Linked DNA regions of Homo sapiens: region 2 is linked to region 1. Evidence: fine-mapped expression QTL. A gene starts in region 1. The other region holds a variant in brackets. All regions are shown on one strand. Distances are between the middles of the regions. Region 1 holds the start of PDCD6 (programmed cell death 6). Region 2 overlaps PDCD6 (programmed cell death 6).

Region 1 (2,757 bases):
CTCGGTGAGGCACTCCAAGCAGTAACAGCGGTAGCCACAAAATAAACCAGAAGCATCTCCACTACGAAGCAGTAATAACAATTTGTCCTAATGATTCCTTTGTCCTTGGAAAAACAACTTCAGAAAGTTATCCACTGTGAACAGGGCAGGCTCGCGGCTTCTTGGTCCGGAGACCCAGTTCCCACTGGCCCACTCACCGTTGGAGAGAGCTTGCTGAAGCTCGGTGTCTGATATCACTCCACTCCTGTCTTTATCGACCCTATAACATCAAGAAGACCAAATAAGCTGGCGATCGAAAGTTCAGGAAAAGCAAAACAAACGTCTTCTGTCAACCCTGCACCGACTCTGGAAGGCTCCCTCCTGGAACCTCCGCCTCTCCCGTCCCGCTGAGGAGTACAGCGGAATCAAGGAAGTGCCCCAGGAGCCGACGTCCAGTGTGGTCTTCCCCTAAGAGGACAATCATCTTCACCTCAATCCTTCCCTTCCTTCCTCTCCTGGCCTGTCTGAATTCCCATTTGCACCCGTTTCCCTTTTTCACAGACAAGACAAGATTCCCTCAGATAACTAAGCCATTCCCTGGCCATCAGTCACTACAGTTTCGGACATTCGGTGGAAAAGCGACCAGGGACAGAAGGCGCCGCCATAAAGGTCACCTGGCCCGAGCAGACGCCAGGTCGCTGCTTCTTCCTTGGCTGCTGACATTTTAACAGCGCCCAGGCAGTCTGTTTCCGCTTTCCCCAAACAAGCACCCTGGAGACCCTCCACCTGGCGGCTCTTGAGGCGAGAAAAAGGGCCTAGCCCAGGAGCCGGTGGCCGCGACCTCGGGTCTGCAGTGGCGCACTCTGCATCTTGGGAAGGGCCCGACGCACAGGACAGGGACCGGGCAGGAGGCAGGGGCGGCCCCAGGAGACCGGGCAGCGGACGGGGGAGACCGCGGGGGACCCGCCAGGGGACGGGGGCGGCCGCGTCGGCTGGGGCAGGGGTCGGGGGCGGCGGCAGGGGACGGGAGGGGGCCGCGGGGGACCCGACAGGGGACGGAGGAGGCCGCAGTAGAACCGGCAGGGAACGGGGTTGGTCGGGGGAGTCGGGACAGGGGTCGGGGCCGCCGCGGCGGAGGCGGGAGGTGCCCGGGCGGTGCCAGGCCGCACCTCTGGAAAACGTTCCACAGGAAGCTCTGGTCCGGCAGCGCCGCGCCTGCAGCAGGCCCAGGGCCGGCCCCAGGGCCGGGGCGGTAAGAGTAGGCGGCCATGGGCCAAGGCACGCGGCTGGGCTGAGGCGCCTGCAGCGACGAGAGACCTCTCAGGCCGACTCCGCTTCCGCCTCTGCCGGGGGCAGGGCCTGGCATTATCACCACTTCCGGGGGCGCAGGAAATGCGTGGTCTCCGGGATGGTCACGGGGTCCCGCGCAGCCAATCCCCTCGCAGCTAAGTTGCCAGGCAACGCCCTGGCGCCTGCGGGGAGGGCGGGGTCTGGGCGCCTGGAGGAAGCCAGAGCTTTGGCGCAGGCCGCCTGCGCGCTGTGCCAGGAAAGCGCTTGGAGAAAATGTCCGGCCCCGCGACCTGGGACAGGAAGTGATGGAGCACGGACTTAGTTTGCCTTTCAGTTCTTGTATAAATAGTTTTGAGGTGAATGTGATTTGCTAACAGTCGGAAACTCTGGGCGGGGCGCGGTAGCTCACACCTGTGATCCCTGCCCTTTGGGAGGCGGAGGCGGGCGGAGCTCTTGAGCCCAGCAGTTCGGACCAGCCTGGGCAGCATGGATAGACCCCATCCCTACAAAAATTACAAAAAGTAGTCGGGCGTGGTGGGCTCCTGTGGTCCCATCTACTCCGTGGGCTGAGGCGGGAGGATTGCCTGAGCCCGGGAGGTCAAGGCCGCAGGGAGCCGAGCTCACTGCACTACAGGGGTGGACAGCGAGACTCTGCCAAAAAAAAAAAAAAAAAAAAGAAAGCAAAAGCAGGCCGGGCGCGGTGGCTCACGCCTGTAATCCCAGCACTTTGGGAGGCCAAGGCCAGTGGATTACCTGAAGTCGGGAGTTCGAGACCAGCCTTGGCCAATTGGGAGACACCCCGTATCTACTAAAAATACAAAACTAACCGGGCGTGATGGTGCACACCTGTAATCCCAGCTACTCGGGAGGCTGAGGCAGGAGAATTGCTTGAAACCGGGAGGAGGAGGTTGCAGTGATCCGAGATCGGGCCATTGCACTCCAGGCCTGGGCAACAAGTGCAAAACTCTGTCTCAAAAAAAAAAAAAAAAAAAAGTCAAAACACAATTCGGGTGGGAAAGGCAGTGTGCAGCATTCTCGGTTGTCTGTTCCGCCCCCAAAAGCTTCCCTCCTTTAGGTTTAACCTGCGCCCCCGTGCTCTGCATCAGCGCGGCCCCTGACCCCGTGCAGCTGGAAACACTGCTGGGCCCCTTCACACCCCTGCCTGCTGGGCCCCTTCACACCCCGGTGGTGGTGCAGCCCTGCCTCCCGCAAGACAGCACTGCCTTCGTGCTGGACACAGTTCTAAGGTGGAGCCTGGAGTGCCTGTAGCACAAATCCCGGAATTGGGAAGTGCCCAGCTTTGGGCCACTGTGATCCCTGGGTCTTTCCCACGCGCGTAGTCTCGTGCCGCCTTCCACCCCGGTCCTGTGTCCTGTGCCCCGGTTCAGAATACTACAATTATTCTCATTATTTCATGGGGTTATTTCAGCTTTTCAGTTTCTTCAGTGCCTCATTCCATGAATGCTAACTTTTTTCATCCTCATACTT
Region 2 (3,015 bases), 40 kb before region 1:
AGACACAGAACCTCAAATGAAGATCTGAGCCCTACGGCAATTCAGACACAGAACGAGATTTTACACGGCATCTTTTCCCTTTTTCTTTTCTTTCTTTTTTAAGACAGGGTCTGGCTCTGTCACCCAGGCTGGAGTGCAGTGGTGTGATCTCGGCTCACTGAAACCTCCACCTCCCGGGTTCAAGTGATTCTCCTGCCTCAGCCTCCTGAGTAGCTGGGACTACAGGCATGCGACACCAGGCCCAGCCTACACTTTTTTGAAAGTGTTCAGAGAACATTGTAAAAATGTCATCCAACCTGGCAGGAACCCCGAGAGGCAGGGGCAGGAAAGGGTCCCCAACCGTAGAGTTTTGAAGCTTCCATGTTCACAGACCTGGTTCTCCAACAAATCCCTGAAGAACAGGGACTGATGCATCCATGCCAAATCAGAGGAAACTCACTTTTACAGATCTAGCATCTTAATTATTATACAGAATAAACAATTTGGGAACGTTTTCCAAATTTCCACATTATTTCTAAAAACCCCATGCTGTTCCTATCTCTCACTGAATTCCAAGGCCAACAAGACAGGACCTTGAGGAACCTGGGTAGAGACCTGGATCACCACCTGCAAACAGCAGCAGAGGTCTGTGTGGAGCTCCCAGGCGGGTCCCCTGAGCCCTGCTCTCCATCTCCCGTGGGTCTCAAAGAGAGCCCAGCAGGAGAGACACCACCAAGGAGCTTGCCTTGCAGGTCAGGGTGCATTACCAGCTCCTGCAGACACTGGAGTGCACGGGAAGAGCTCGGAGACCCCACTGAGGGCGGCCTGAGCGACCACAGGCTCCACAGCTGACCTCACACACAGACGGCAGGACACAGTGATGACCACAACAGAAAACGTGCCCATTTTCTCAGAATAAAAGTTTTTGTAAAAATACACCATAGTTGGCCAGGCATGGTGGCTCATGTCTGTAATCCTAGCACTTTGGGAGGCTAAGGTGGGCGGATTACTTGAGGTCAGGAGTTTGAGATCAGCCTGGCCAACATGGCAAAATCCCGTCTCTACTAAAAATACAAAAATTAGCTGGGTGTCACCTGTAATCCCAGCTACTGGGGAGGCTGAGGCAGGAGAATTGCTTAAACCCGGGACGCAGAGGTGGGAGTGAGCCGGGATCGTGCCACTGCACTCCCGTCTGGGTGACAGAGCGAGACTCGGTCTCAAAACAAAACAAAACAAAACAAAAAACAAAAAAAACCACAACACCAGAACATACATGTAAATAACCCACCGGATACTGAAAAACCACGTCTTGCAGATGGGCTGCTCTGTGCCATTTCCAAGGGGAGGAAAACATGTTTGTCCACACTTCACTAACCGGCTACTTCTCCAAAGATGAGACTCACTTTTATAAGCTCCAAAAACTAATTCTACACATGCCCAGCTCCTTAGATTGAAGGTCAGGTGCATCACGCTGGCAAGCAAGCCCCTCCCACCACCACCACAAACCCACGTGAAGCCATTCCGTCACCTGCAGGACGATGCAGCCCTGGATGAAGTCGTCGAAGGC[A/G]ATCTGCCCCCGTCCCTGCCTGTCAAACTTTCGAATGAGGATGTCGTGGAACTGGTCAGAGAGCCGGTAGCCTTCAAGAGGGAAAGTCAGAGTCAGAGAAGGCTGGGAGAGACGGGAGGTATGTGCCAACACTCACCCCTCCTGCCCAAGGCCCACAGCCTCTAACACACACAATGCAAGGCTGTGTGGGAACGGAAGTGCAAATTCCCTCAAAGGCACTCAGAACTGAGACACTTCCCGAATATATCATTCTGTAATGAGCTGACATCCCCAGTGCATGGAGTGACCCCTTGAGACCATGACCCCGGAAGGAGGAGTGAGTGGGACGCTGCCATTAGTCACTCCTGTGAATTAACTACTCACCTCCGGGAAGCACTCACCAAACACCACCCCACAGGGCGGCCACACTCAGTTTCCTGAACCCAGTGGAGTTACTTTCAAAGTCCTTATTGATTTTATTATGTTTATTAGCCTAGATAAGAAAATTCTGAATGATTCGCTGCCCTGGGTTGCCCATCACCAGATAATGCTTTGAAAACTAAAATTTCACAGAAGGCTTCCAGTTATACAAAGTGACAATGTCAGGAAATGGGAGTGGCTGGGGGATGTGCCCCCACCTGCCAGGAGGGACTGAAGGGCACGCAGTGGCAGGGTGACCTCGGAAAGGTCCAAGTCACTGCAGGGCCACCAAGGGCTGGGATTCCGTTTCCAGTTCACCAAGGCTGTCCTGAAAAAGGCCTCCCACAGGGAGAGGGCTCTGAAGACATGTGGATGCAGCAGGTGTGTTCGGGCACCCCGGAGGGCATGCCCCGCCTGCCGCCTTCCCTTCCCTCCCTCGAAATCCCACTGCCTTCGTGACTGTGGCATATCCTTACTGACTCAGGAGGCAAGATCCAGGTGCTGATATATTTCTACTGGTTTTCAGTCCTGCTGGAATCTCTGCAGGGACGTGTGCACCTACTCTCTGAATCTCACAGTTAATGACCTGCACAAACAGCCATTTTACGGATCAAGAGTCAAGCACACAAACATGAACACAGTGCCTTCCAGAGTGGTCAGGGCATTCTGTCATTTAAGTTCAGGGGTCCCTAAATGTGCAACAGCGGAGTTGCCTCGGACCCTCCTTCCTTGCAAGCTGAAAAGACAGGACCTCCCATTACATTCAGAAAGAGATGGCAGAGTTGTCAACAGCTGCCACTTTTTCTGGTCCCTACTACTCCCACCTCCTCACTCCCTGCACCAGGGCTGAGCCCAGCCTGCTGAGAACAGAGCCTGGGACAGGCCCACAGGGACATTGCCTGTCTGGGAGTGCATGGGGGACAGAGGCCATCACTGGTGTGCACGGGGACGGCGGCCATCACTGGGGTGCACGGGCACGGCGGCCATCACTGGTGTGCACGGGGACGGCGGCCATCACTGGGGTGCACGGGGACGGCGGCCATCACTGGGGTGCACGGGGACGGCGGCCA

Evidence for each region. PIP is the estimated chance that this variant, and not a neighbour inherited with it, causes the effect.
Region 2: its variant is fine-mapped to the expression of PDCD6 in cerebellum (GTEx, PIP above 0.99). The same link has a PIP of 0.9 or more in aorta, esophagus muscle, fibroblasts and thyroid.

What each region holds. Positions count from the first base shown.
Region 1 is chr5:270,213-272,969 of GRCh38, reverse strand. PDCD6 (programmed cell death 6) reads right to left here and starts at 1,324. Exons shown (of 6, transcript NM_013232.4): 1 at 1,149-1,324; 2 at 198-259. The coding sequence starts at 1,249. PDCD6-DT (PDCD6 divergent transcript) reads left to right here and starts at 1,446. Exons shown (of 2, transcript NR_104613.1): 1 at 1,446-1,625. PDCD6-AHRR (PDCD6-AHRR readthrough (NMD candidate)) reads right to left here and starts at 1,324. Exons shown (of 13, transcript NR_165163.2): 1 at 1,149-1,324; 2 at 198-259. RefSeq lists a silencer at 1,032-1,241 and enhancers at 1,532-1,621, 2,283-2,757.
Region 2 is chr5:309,895-312,909 of GRCh38, reverse strand. PDCD6 (programmed cell death 6) reads right to left here. Exons shown (of 6, transcript NM_013232.4): 5 at 1,508-1,617. The region is part of intron 3 of PDCD6-AHRR (PDCD6-AHRR readthrough (NMD candidate)); the gene reads right to left. Among named protein-coding and RNA genes, the nearest start is that of AHRR, 10 kb to the left of the region's middle. The variant A/G (reference allele first, on the strand shown) is at 1,547.